2 separate regions of the Homo sapiens genome follow, and region 1 is linked to region 2. The links come from fine-mapping of genetic effects on gene expression. A gene starts in region 2. The other region holds a variant in brackets. All regions are shown on one strand. Distances are between the middles of the regions.

What was found.
Region 1: its variant is fine-mapped to the expression of ZFX in fibroblasts (GTEx, PIP 0.98).

Annotation. Positions count from the first base shown.
Region 1 is chrX:24,211,157-24,216,376 of GRCh38, reverse strand. ZFX (zinc finger protein X-linked) reads right to left here. Exons shown (of 10, transcript NM_003410.4): 10 at 122-5,220. The coding sequence ends at 5,001. Among named protein-coding and RNA genes, the nearest start is that of ZFX, 64 kb to the right of the region's middle. The variant A/G (reference allele first, on the strand shown) is at 2,736.
Region 2 is chrX:24,147,457-24,152,957 of GRCh38, reverse strand. ZFX (zinc finger protein X-linked) reads right to left here and starts at 3,229. Exons shown (of 10, transcript NM_003410.4): 1 at 3,164-3,229; 2 at 1,158-1,267; 3 at 128-238. It overlaps ZFX-AS1 (ZFX antisense RNA 1), which reads left to right and starts at 3,304. Exons shown (of 3, transcript NR_046657.1): 1 at 3,304-3,403; 2 at 4,116-4,205. RefSeq lists silencers at 2,223-2,732, 2,783-2,832, 2,853-3,262, 3,323-3,682 and enhancers at 2,773-3,586, 3,793-3,892.

The DNA of each region.
Region 1 (5,220 bases), 64 kb before region 2:
ATAGGAAAAACCAAGTAAAGGAAAGTAATTCTTGATTTTGACCTCAAACTTCATGGAGTGAGTACTTCCATCACAGAGGTCAAAACATGATTTTGAAATCCAAGTCGGTACAGATGCTATGCCTATATGCACCAGTGACATGTTCCTTGGTGCTATTATTAGTGTTGAACCACTGAAGGGAGTCGAATCACCTCCAGCTTCAAACAAGTTGGGAATTCATTAACTGTGTGATTTAAGTCTCCTCGTTTCGAGTATATACCTTGTCTATAGCCAACACTCCACTAGGGTAACTTAAAACAAAATAGTAATTTATTTACAATAGCAAAGATGTCAAAAATAACAGGAACAATATATAACAAATCCAAGATTTTTATGAAAAAGGCAAACAGTATATACACGAAACAAAAGATGAAACAAAATCCATAGGGTAAACTTAATTTGACCTTAGCTAAACAGTTACAGAATGTGGCAAAATGGTTATGATTTATTTAAGTAACCCTGGGCCAATTAAACACACACACACACACACACAATCTTTTTCAACCCTTCTCTTTTAAATGCTGAATCTTCCTCTCAACTCAGTTTACCTTTGAAGAATGTAACCATGGGAGGCCACACGAGATTTAGGAAGTGCAGGCTATTTACATGTGCGCTAAAGGCATACTTGTTGACTTGGCAGGCTCACACTTTTAAAACAGCAAATGGAAGGTATAAACTGTCTGGGGTCCTATTTTTCTCTCACTGTTCATTTCTGATTTTTTGTGATAATTTCTTTCTTATCTACCACACAAAATGCTGAACCAGTCATCTTTTAGGTTCCTCAAGTGCTCTAAAAGTGTTTCCCAAGTTTGAACAGGCATCAGAATCACTTGGAGAACATGTTAAAACAAAGACTGCTGGGTCCCACGCCAGTTTCCCAATTCAGTAGGACTAGGGTGGGGCTGAGAATTTGCATTTTTAACAAAGTCCCAGGAGATTAAGATGCTGCCAATGCTGTCCGGCCATACTTTGAAAACCACTGCTCTGAAAGATTGCCCCTTTAAGATATTGATTAGCCATGTTTTTCCTTACATGAATGCTAGAATTTGTGGGAAATGAAATTATTAATACTGAGATTCCCAGAGAATACAAATACAGCAGCATGTTATCGGACTTGTTGGATCACAGACAGGTTAGGTGTCATTTGTTGGGTGTTCCATTACAAAAGTTTTTCAGCATGCTATGTATGGTTTTGTCTGATTTATGGCTCTGGACAGTGACATTCACCACATTCCCTTCGTCATTTACCTAAAATTTTAATTTATTGTTTCAACTATTAGGCAAACGTTTGTTCATACAGTTGGAAGAACTGCAGAATCTTGTCTATAAAATCAAAGATGGCACAACTCTATCTCTTTTGACTCCTGACATTTACTTAACTGCCGATTTTTAACTGTGGCAATGACCATTCCCTAGTATGTTAGCATCTACTAGTCCTCTAAACTGGGCGCAGTGGGGTAACTCGAGGGCATGATTTCTGTTGTGGAGGTGGTAACAGTCCCCACTGATTAAATATGCTGTAAATTAATACTGAAATGAACTTTAAGTGCTCTCAAAAACCACTTTATGCATGAGTAATTTATCTCAGGGGAATTGGAGATGCTAATAAAACAAATCCTTTATGAAGATAAAAGAAAAAATGAATTCCAAGGACATGCTCATCAAAGGACTCACCAATCACCTCTTAACTTCTCTGAAATATTACTTGCAAATTCACAGAACTGAAATATTACCAGTATTTGCATCCGAGTCACAAAATTCAAAGCAATCAAGCACTTTGCATTCCACTGCTGTGAAAAAGAAATTAAGAAATGGGGGGATGAAAATAATCCACTGCTTTTGATGTTTATTAGGTTTACAAAAACTGTACATTTTTTTTCCTTGAGAAAAAGCATTAACTTAGTACTGGTATCAAATAGACTAAACATTCAATAACAGGAAAATATTCTGATTTTTATTTTTGCACGTTATTCTCAAGTACACAATTACAATAATGTCACACATCCCTATATGATTTTCTTTTTATGTATTTTACTTTCTTTACAAAGTGTACAGAGGGAGGGACATACAATATTTAATAGGATATTTCTACAGAACAATAACTTATATTATGTCCTTGTAAAAATCTGTACCTCTTTAAAACATTTAACTGAAACATCCATTTTTTTTTAGCTTTGCTAATCAAAATTGTTTTAAGAATTAAAACTAGGTTGTAACTAATGTCAGTACATAACAGTGACTACAATTTCATTTTCTCTTTATACAGACAAGTATGTTTTATCATATTCACTTGACCAAACCCTTAAATACCTTTTAAAGGTTTTAATGTTGTGCTTTAAAAAGAACTGTGTATGATTCCGGAGTATGTAAGAGAAATATAAAATGTGTGAAGTGTTGTGTTCTTTATCTTTCAGTTTATTTAAAAAAATATAGTTAAATGACCCAATCATTTATATTTTCTGTATTAATTTTATAGGATTTAAAATTAATACATTTCCACTTTCATTTAAGTGTTTTTACATTATTTCTGGGAAAATAAAAATTAAGGGAGATTTTAAAGGTTCTCACAAAAAAACAGACAGAGCTTTCAAGAATCGCAGGGCAATGAATCACGGATCACAAAATTGTAAGTTAGTTTAAAAAAAAAAAAAAAAAAAAAACACATTATGGGGGCCAAGAAGGTACAGGAATTTCCT[A/G]TAAGATAGGCTAGGAAAACCCATGCCTTGACTTTGACTGGCATTTGGGCTGGAGTTCACACCTGCCTAAAGCACTTGGTTTAAAACTAGACTAAATCAGTCTAGCACTTCAGAGGTTTGCCAAACACCAAATATTTTGATTTCTAACCCTAAAAATATAACTCTTGAATACAAACATCAATGGCAAAGAGAAAGATGAAAGGTAAAAACCTAAGCACACAGGGGATGGAGCACCATAATGAGGTGACAAGGCAGCTATCGGGTGGGAAGACAATTTCTAAATCTCCTACAATGTGCTAGATGCATACGGACCAATAGCCAACTGAAGGGACCCCAAAAACTGTTTTCTGTTCTCCCAGATTCGTCTTAACATAACCAAGTTCTAATTAACCGAGTTTGTTTTATGAATGTATGACACTGATTCAGACCTATGTGGTGTCTGGGCACGGTGGCTCACGCCTGTAAACCCAGCACTATGGAAGGCCGAGGCAGGTGGATCACGAGGTCAGGGTTCAAGACCAGCCTGGCCAAGATGGTGAAACCCCATCTCTATTAAAAATACAAAAAATTAGCCGGGCGTGGTGGTGGGCGCCTGTAATCCCAGCTACTCGAGAGGCTGAGGCAGATAATTGCTTGAACCCAGGAAGCAGAGGTTGCAGTGAGCTGCAGAGGTTGCAGTGATCACACCACTGCAGTCCAGCCTGGGCAACAGAGCAAGACTCCGTCTTAAGAAAAAAAAACAACAAAAAAAAACAAACAAACAAAAAACCTGTGGAAGACTTAGTGATGTTCCAAATAAGGCCTCAGACTTTCCTTATCCACTTAAAACACATCTTTACCTTTTAATCAAAGCCAACTTGAGTGTTAAGTTTTTAAAGTTTGCTAACTGTAACTGAGAAATAACAGATCAGCCTGAACTTGCCGAGTGTGAAGTCATAATTAGCACCCGTTCTCTGGTCCACAGAGCCATCACTTCTTTTCCATCCCCCTCACTAGGTAAGACAGAGTTCCCTCTCAGGCTTCTCAAAGAGAACTGTGGGAGTCATGTCTGGATACTCATTTGCTTTTCAGAAAAACATAAAGACATGGAGGTGAAATTGTATGAAAACATTCTACCTAGAAACATCTTAACCTCTATGTTTCAATTACCAAAGATATTTAAAAGAAAATATCTTTACTCTTTAAAAATACTAGTGTCCTTATTTTCCTTCTAATTCTTCACCTGAGTAGTCTCTCTGAAGAGCATGACTTACAAAATGCTCTCTCATGCATCCCTGGATCTTTCATGTTATTGTAAATTTAATACTTTTCATTATAGATTTTAAACAACTACTACTTGGGGTTGTGTGTATAAATATGTAAAATAAGCAATACACACAGGTACATGATATATATGTGTATATATATAATTCAGGGTACATTTACATACATAAAGTTGCAAAAGATCCTATAAGCCATGAGTTACCTCTAGGAGATTCCAAAATGCAGTCCTCAGTAAGTGTCATTTGTAGCACACAACCATTCCAAGATGAAGCCGCACAGACAGAATAATCAAAATACAACATGAGCAAGCACAGTTTTTCAATAAGGTTTTCTAAAAGTTTGCTACGCTGACAAAAGATGTAAATAATCCAAAGAAAGCCAAAAGAAGTATATTTGAAAAGTAAACACGAACCCAGCCACTGCTCTTTACTCAGCAAAGCCAGGGACGCAACAGCTCAAATGGAAACTTTCACTGTCAAGTGGTCTGAAAATATTAAGCAAGACAAGTAAATGACTTCCATGTTATGATAATTAGACCTGACTGTAAAATCTCCCATTTATATTAGTAGATGTCTCTGACAATTTTATTGTGAGAAATGTATGGGGAAAAAAATGAGTCAACATGAATACTTTCAGAGTTACCAATATAAAGTTACCTTAAGTTAATGGTCTTAGAAGAGTACCATCAAGGTAAGCAAGGTAAATATTTAAATAAATATAAAATTCTAAGATATAAAACTTCGGTATAGAATCAGGGATTACTTTATTAAAAGTAACTAGCATGTTGCCAGTTTTCCCTATTTATTAAACAAACTGAATAGAATTCAGAACACACTACTGAGCAAAATGTATATTTAAAAAAAAGTCAACTAGAAGTAATAATTCTATTTGTACACAGCATAAATCAATATACAGTATTGTATGTGAATGAGACTGATTGGCTTTAAAATGAATTTTCTGCTTCAAGGCCAATATCTCTACAAACGTTCTGTAGAAGTATTGTTAGGGCAGGCCAACTTCTTTATGATGTCGCATTATGTGCTGGTTCTTTTCTGAAGGTCTTCGGAAGCCTTTCTTGCAGTACTCACACCGGTGAGGATAGTCTTTCGTGTGAATGGAAATAACGTGCCGTTTAAAGCCTGAGGCATCTGTAGTGCTATACTCACAGTACTCACACTGATACACTTTCCTGCCACTGTGTGTCTTCATATGCTTTTTAAGC
Region 2 (5,501 bases):
TCATCCAGGGTGGTTGGGTTCGAAGGTGTTCCACCAGTCAGTTTTCCAAAGTTTCAAGGTCTACCCTTTCAGGCAAAAATAATTTTATATTTAACCATTTCTAATTGAAACTAAACTACACACTTACCTGTCTTAATCACACAACTTGACTCTAATCTTAATCTTGAACATCCACTGTTGCTGTACTGCGCAGCAAAACAATTCTATCTTCTTAATAGTTCTTCTATGTCTTTCCCAGCTGTCAAAATATAAAAGCACCTGGTTCTTCTAAGTTTATGTTTACCCTTAACACCTCAACAACCACAGCCCGCCTTCTCAACTTGCTTCTAGTCAGCCTCATGCAATGCACTGTTTCTCGAACTTTTCTAAACCATAGCCCTTTATAATAAACATGAGACTCTCATTCCCTCCAGCCCTTTCATGGAGCACCGCTGCTCACGACCTGTTACAGTCTAGAAAAATGGAAAAACTGAAAATGGGTATCTATGCCACCTAAAGGTTTCCATCATAAAATTCTAGGAAACAGGCAGGGCACGGTGGTTCATGCCTGTAATCCCAGCACTTTGGGAGGTCAAGGCAGGCAGATCACTTGAGGTCAGGAGTTCGAGACCAGCCTGGCCAACATGAAACCCTGTCTCTACTAAAAATACAAAAATTAACCAGGCATGGTGGCAGGGTCCTGTAGTCCCAGCTACTCGGGAGGCTGAGGCAGGAGAATTACTTGAACCCGGGAGGCAGAGGTTGCAATGAGCCAAGATCACACCACTGCACTCCAGCCTGGGCGACAGAGTGAGATTCAGTCTCAAAAAAAAAAAAAAATTACCACGGGAATACTCATTTCTCATTTTCGTCAAATAACCCACAGCACTAGTCCTGTACTTTTCAACCATGGTAAATGAAATGTTAGAAACCCCTCCCTATTTGTGTACCATAGAAATTCTGACAACTCTGAGCAAAAGATTATTTCGGATGAGAAATCAGGATAGAAAAAAGGAGCAGCTGTCTTAATAGAGACGCATCGTTCCAAAAGTAGCAAAATTTGCTTAACTTCTGAACATTCTTGTAATCGTTCTGATAATGAAAACACTGATCAACTTACTACTCTCATTATTTTTCAACTTTGAAACTTTTCCTAGTCCAATGGAACTACTAAGTACCGTAAAGCACAGCTCAGGGAACAGACGGCAGTGACAGGCGGGCAGTGGGAGGCGGGAGAACGGCTTGAGCCCAGGAGTTCGAGACCAGCCTGGGGCAATATAGCAAGAACCTGTCTCAAAATAAAAAATAAGTAAATAACAAGGTGCAGCTCAGGTGTGCCATCACTCTTCTAGTTGAGGGCACCCCCGCTGCCTACCCCATTGAGTATAAGCCCCTCCACCTGGCAAGCAAGCCCTTCTGCAATCTAACTTTTCTAGCCTGAATTCCCACCACTCCCCTACCTATACCATCCACTTTTGCCAAACTGTAAATACTTACTGTTTACTGAAGAAGCTTCACCCTTGAAACGTCCTTTCTCCACCTCCACCTCTACCTAACAAAGTCCTACCCATCCCTCGGTAACCTTCTCAAAATGCCACCTATTAATACTTCAGGAACCCGTCCCTCCCTGATCCTCCAATGGCAACCTTGCTTCCCTCGGAAATCCCAGTAATTAGTTGTACCTCTCACTTTACTGCATTTCACCTTGCCCCACCTACCTCTAAACATGAGACTTCTTGCAGCCACCGTCTGCATTACAAGAACCTTTTTAATGTTTCTTAGCATCTAGCACGGTGCATCGCTAACAGTAGGCTCCGAGTTTATCAAGAAAGTTGCACAGTGTGCAATCAAAAAAGTACGTTAGGGGATGAAACTCCGCCTTAAAACTTCACAAATGAAAAATCGAAATACCATGACAGGCAAATGCACAATAAATATGCACCACACTAAGTTGTCCTCCAATAAGAAAATAAAAAAGTCTGCCCTTATTCCTCGATTTAAAAAAATACCACCAACAGATCACTACTTAAATCGTTTTTCAAGAAAGTTGTTTCCACATAAATGAGTACGAATGATTCAAAATTTTATTCCTCCGCTCTCGTGTTGTGCAATTTTTTTCCCTATAGGACAAAAGAATGGCAAAAACTTTCCCATCAATCTTTATTTTTCTTCCTTTATTCAGATACTCGGGGCGGCAAAGATTGTTGGAAAAACAACTGCATCGAAAGCACCTTAGCAGCCACATATGATTTGACTTAAGCAAAAATAACATTTCCTGGGGTCCCGTATGCCCTGGTAAGCCCAGGTGTCCGGAATGCCACCTGCCCCGACTGCCCTCGGGTGGCTACAGGCGCGGGGGAAGGCGCAGGGCCAGGGGCGCTGAGGGTGAAACGGTCCCGGCGTCCGGGCGGCGGCGGTGGCCGCCTGCGGCAGCTCAGCTGAAACGCAGCGGAAACTGCAGCCAGTCACGGGGCTGCGGGAGGCAAGGCAGGAAGGTGGCGCTGCCGCCGAGCGCCTGGAGCCCGAGCGCTCATCATGGCGGCAAGGGCAATGGCCGCCACGGGGAGCGAGCACGCCCCTCCGCGCGCACACGCCGCCGCGCCGGGCCTCCGGGGCCCGTCACCGGCGCCGCTGCCGCCGCCGCCCGCTCTCCCACCCCCCCTCACGGGCTGTAGCGGAATTTTCTCTCCAGACACCGCCTCCAAGATGGCGGCTCCCCCTCCCGGCAACCCCCTCTATCGTCCCCTGCAGCAGGCGCCGAGCCGCCGCCATCTTGTCCCCCGTCCCTCCCCCCCCCTCACCGATATTTACATAGCGAAAATCGGCCCGGCCGGCCTGCGGCCTTCACCTCACGCCTGCAGCCTTCGCCTCCTCGCCAGGCCTCACCCCGGCGCGGTGCCCCAGGTCGGCCGCGGAGCCGACCCGGGGCCCCTCGACCGCCTCCGGCACAACCGGGCGACCCTCCCCCAACCCCCGCCCGCTTACGGAGCGCGCCTCCGCCGCCGCTCGGGGCAGCCGGGCTCCTCCCCGGGCCTAACTGCGGCCTCCTCGGGGCCTGCTCGGCGCCGCGCGCCACGCCGCCCGGCCTAGCGCGGGAGGGCGCCTTGCGGGCCGCCGACCAGGCCGAGACCAGGCCGCTGTGCGCGCACTAGGCCCCGCGGCCGCGGCGGCACCCGGGACTCACCGGACGGACGTGCGGGCGGCCGGCGACGGTGGCGGGTGCTGCAGGCCGGCCTTTCTCTGGAGCACTGGGCCGGGCTCCGGCTGGTGGGGCGGGCGGAGGGAGGGAGGAGGGGCCGAGCTCGGAGCTGACAAAAAGCGGCCCAGCTCCCCGGCACGGGCCCGCCGTCAGCACGTCACGTCACCGCCCGGGAGAGAGACCCAGGAAAATGCGGAAGGGTAGACAGGCCCCCTCCTCCGCCCGGTGGGTCCTCCTGGCACCCCGTGTCGGCGCCGCTCCCGCCCCGCGACCGGGGAGCCCAGTGGCCTCGCTGCGGCGGGGTCTCCGGCGGCCGGAGTCTCCGTGACAGCGCCCCCCTTCTTTCCACCTCCTCCGCGCTCCCGCCCGCCGCCGCCACACACGCGCCGCTGCCGCCGCCGCCTCGGCCGTAAAGCCCGCGCGGGGCCGCGGTCGGCCGACCCCGCGGAGAGGCAGGCGGCCCGGCCGCCCCCCACCATGTCCCGTGGGCCGCGGCCGCCCCCCGGGGGCCTCCCTGGAGACCTACCGCCTCTCGCGCCGGTCCTGGCCGAGGCTCCAGCTCGAGTTGTTTGCAGGCCCTCAGACCCCCGCCCGCAGTAAATGTGTTTTCTTCATCCCCGTGGCTGGGGAGGAAGATAAATTTAGCAACCCCCGCCGTCCCCTGCCTTCGCTTAAAAAAAAAAAATCTTTGAAATAAAATGAAAACGGGCTTGCCAGTCTAAATGGGTGTGCGGGAAGGGGGGTGGAGTGGGGGGAGAAGGGTTATCCCTAGAGCACCTACCAGGCCGTCTACTTTTTAAAAATAAGCAGTCAGAGCCAAACTGATTTTATTAGTTTGTACGGGGGAGGGAGATGAGCAAAGTTGCATTTTGAAACGTTTCGCACGTTGCAAAGAACAGGAATTTTCTGTGTATTTTCCTATGTACCCGTGTTTCAGAGCTTGGGAGCCTGTGAAATGTAAGACTGGTGTCATCGTTTCATAAATCATGAATTTTCCACATTCCTTAATAGAGAGGAGCCCAATTGGGTATGGATTTTTTTTTTTTTAAACACACTGCTTAAACAAGCCTTTTGAAGTTTCAAAAGACTTGGGAGAGAAGGGGAAAATGATTAAACAGCACTTACCAACTTCAAAAATGTGTATTTCGCACTTTACTTAGTTTAAATGTTTATGCTATCTTTCCATGCTGAACTTGGAACCCAAACTCTGTTTTAAAGTTACTAGGGAAAAGTTAAATAGTGGAGTCTTTACATTAATCTGGAATCTGGCATGCTATCCTTTAACACAGCACTAAATGTTAAAGGCATTTTTAAACAATAAGAAACACAAAAATTATAAAGCAAATAGTATACTGGTGTGAAATCTCTTTAAATACAGAGGCCACGTATTTTAGTTGCCTGACATAACTCTTTAAAACTCCCAGAATGCAATTTGTCCCTTCCCTCAGACATCTCTCAATCACAAATGCTTTCAAAAAGGAAAAACAAAAGTAGAGTAAGAAGAAATCTCTGAGCATGCACTGGATGATAATTTTCCTCTCGGGGCTTTAGTCTGAATTTTTCCAAGCGATTAAATTTCCTTTCAAAAATAGTAACAGCATGTATTCATTGTTTATAAAAATTACATCAGGCTGTGATAGACTTTCACAGAAAGACATTTCACAGAAAGGTAAATGAAACTAAGCAATGTTGTTTCAATAAAAAAAAATGAGAAATAGCTTGTGTGCCCACATTAATATTTCTTGCACTCCCAGACTGGAGTGCAATGGCGTGATCTTGGCTCACTGAACCTCTGCCTTCGGGGTTCAAGCGATTCTCCTGCCTCAGCCTCCCGAGTAGCTGGGATTACAGGCACTTGCCACCACGCCTGGCTAATTTTTCTATTTTTTTAGTAGAGATGGGGTTTCACCATGTTGGCCAGGCTGGTCTCCAACTCCTGACCTCAGGTAATCCACCCGCCTCGGCCTCCCAAAGTGCTGGGATTACAGGCGTGAGCCACCGTGCCCGGCCGCCCACATTAATATTTCAAAACATTGATAATCAGCGTTTAAGTACTTTCCAAGGGCCTCAGTGTGATGCTACGGTATGGCAAGAATGGAGGCCAGGTTCCCTGGTTCAGTCCTGTAATCACAGCACTTTGGGAGGCCGAGGCGAGAGGATCACTTGAGCCCAGGAGTTCAAGACTAGCCTGGGTAACATGGTGAGACCTCGTCTCTATTAAAAAAAAAAAAAAAGAAGAAGAATAGAGCCTCACTTCATCCATGCAACTGTAAGCAGCATGTTCAAGACAGAAAAACCTAATGTCACCATTCTTGTTAGTTTT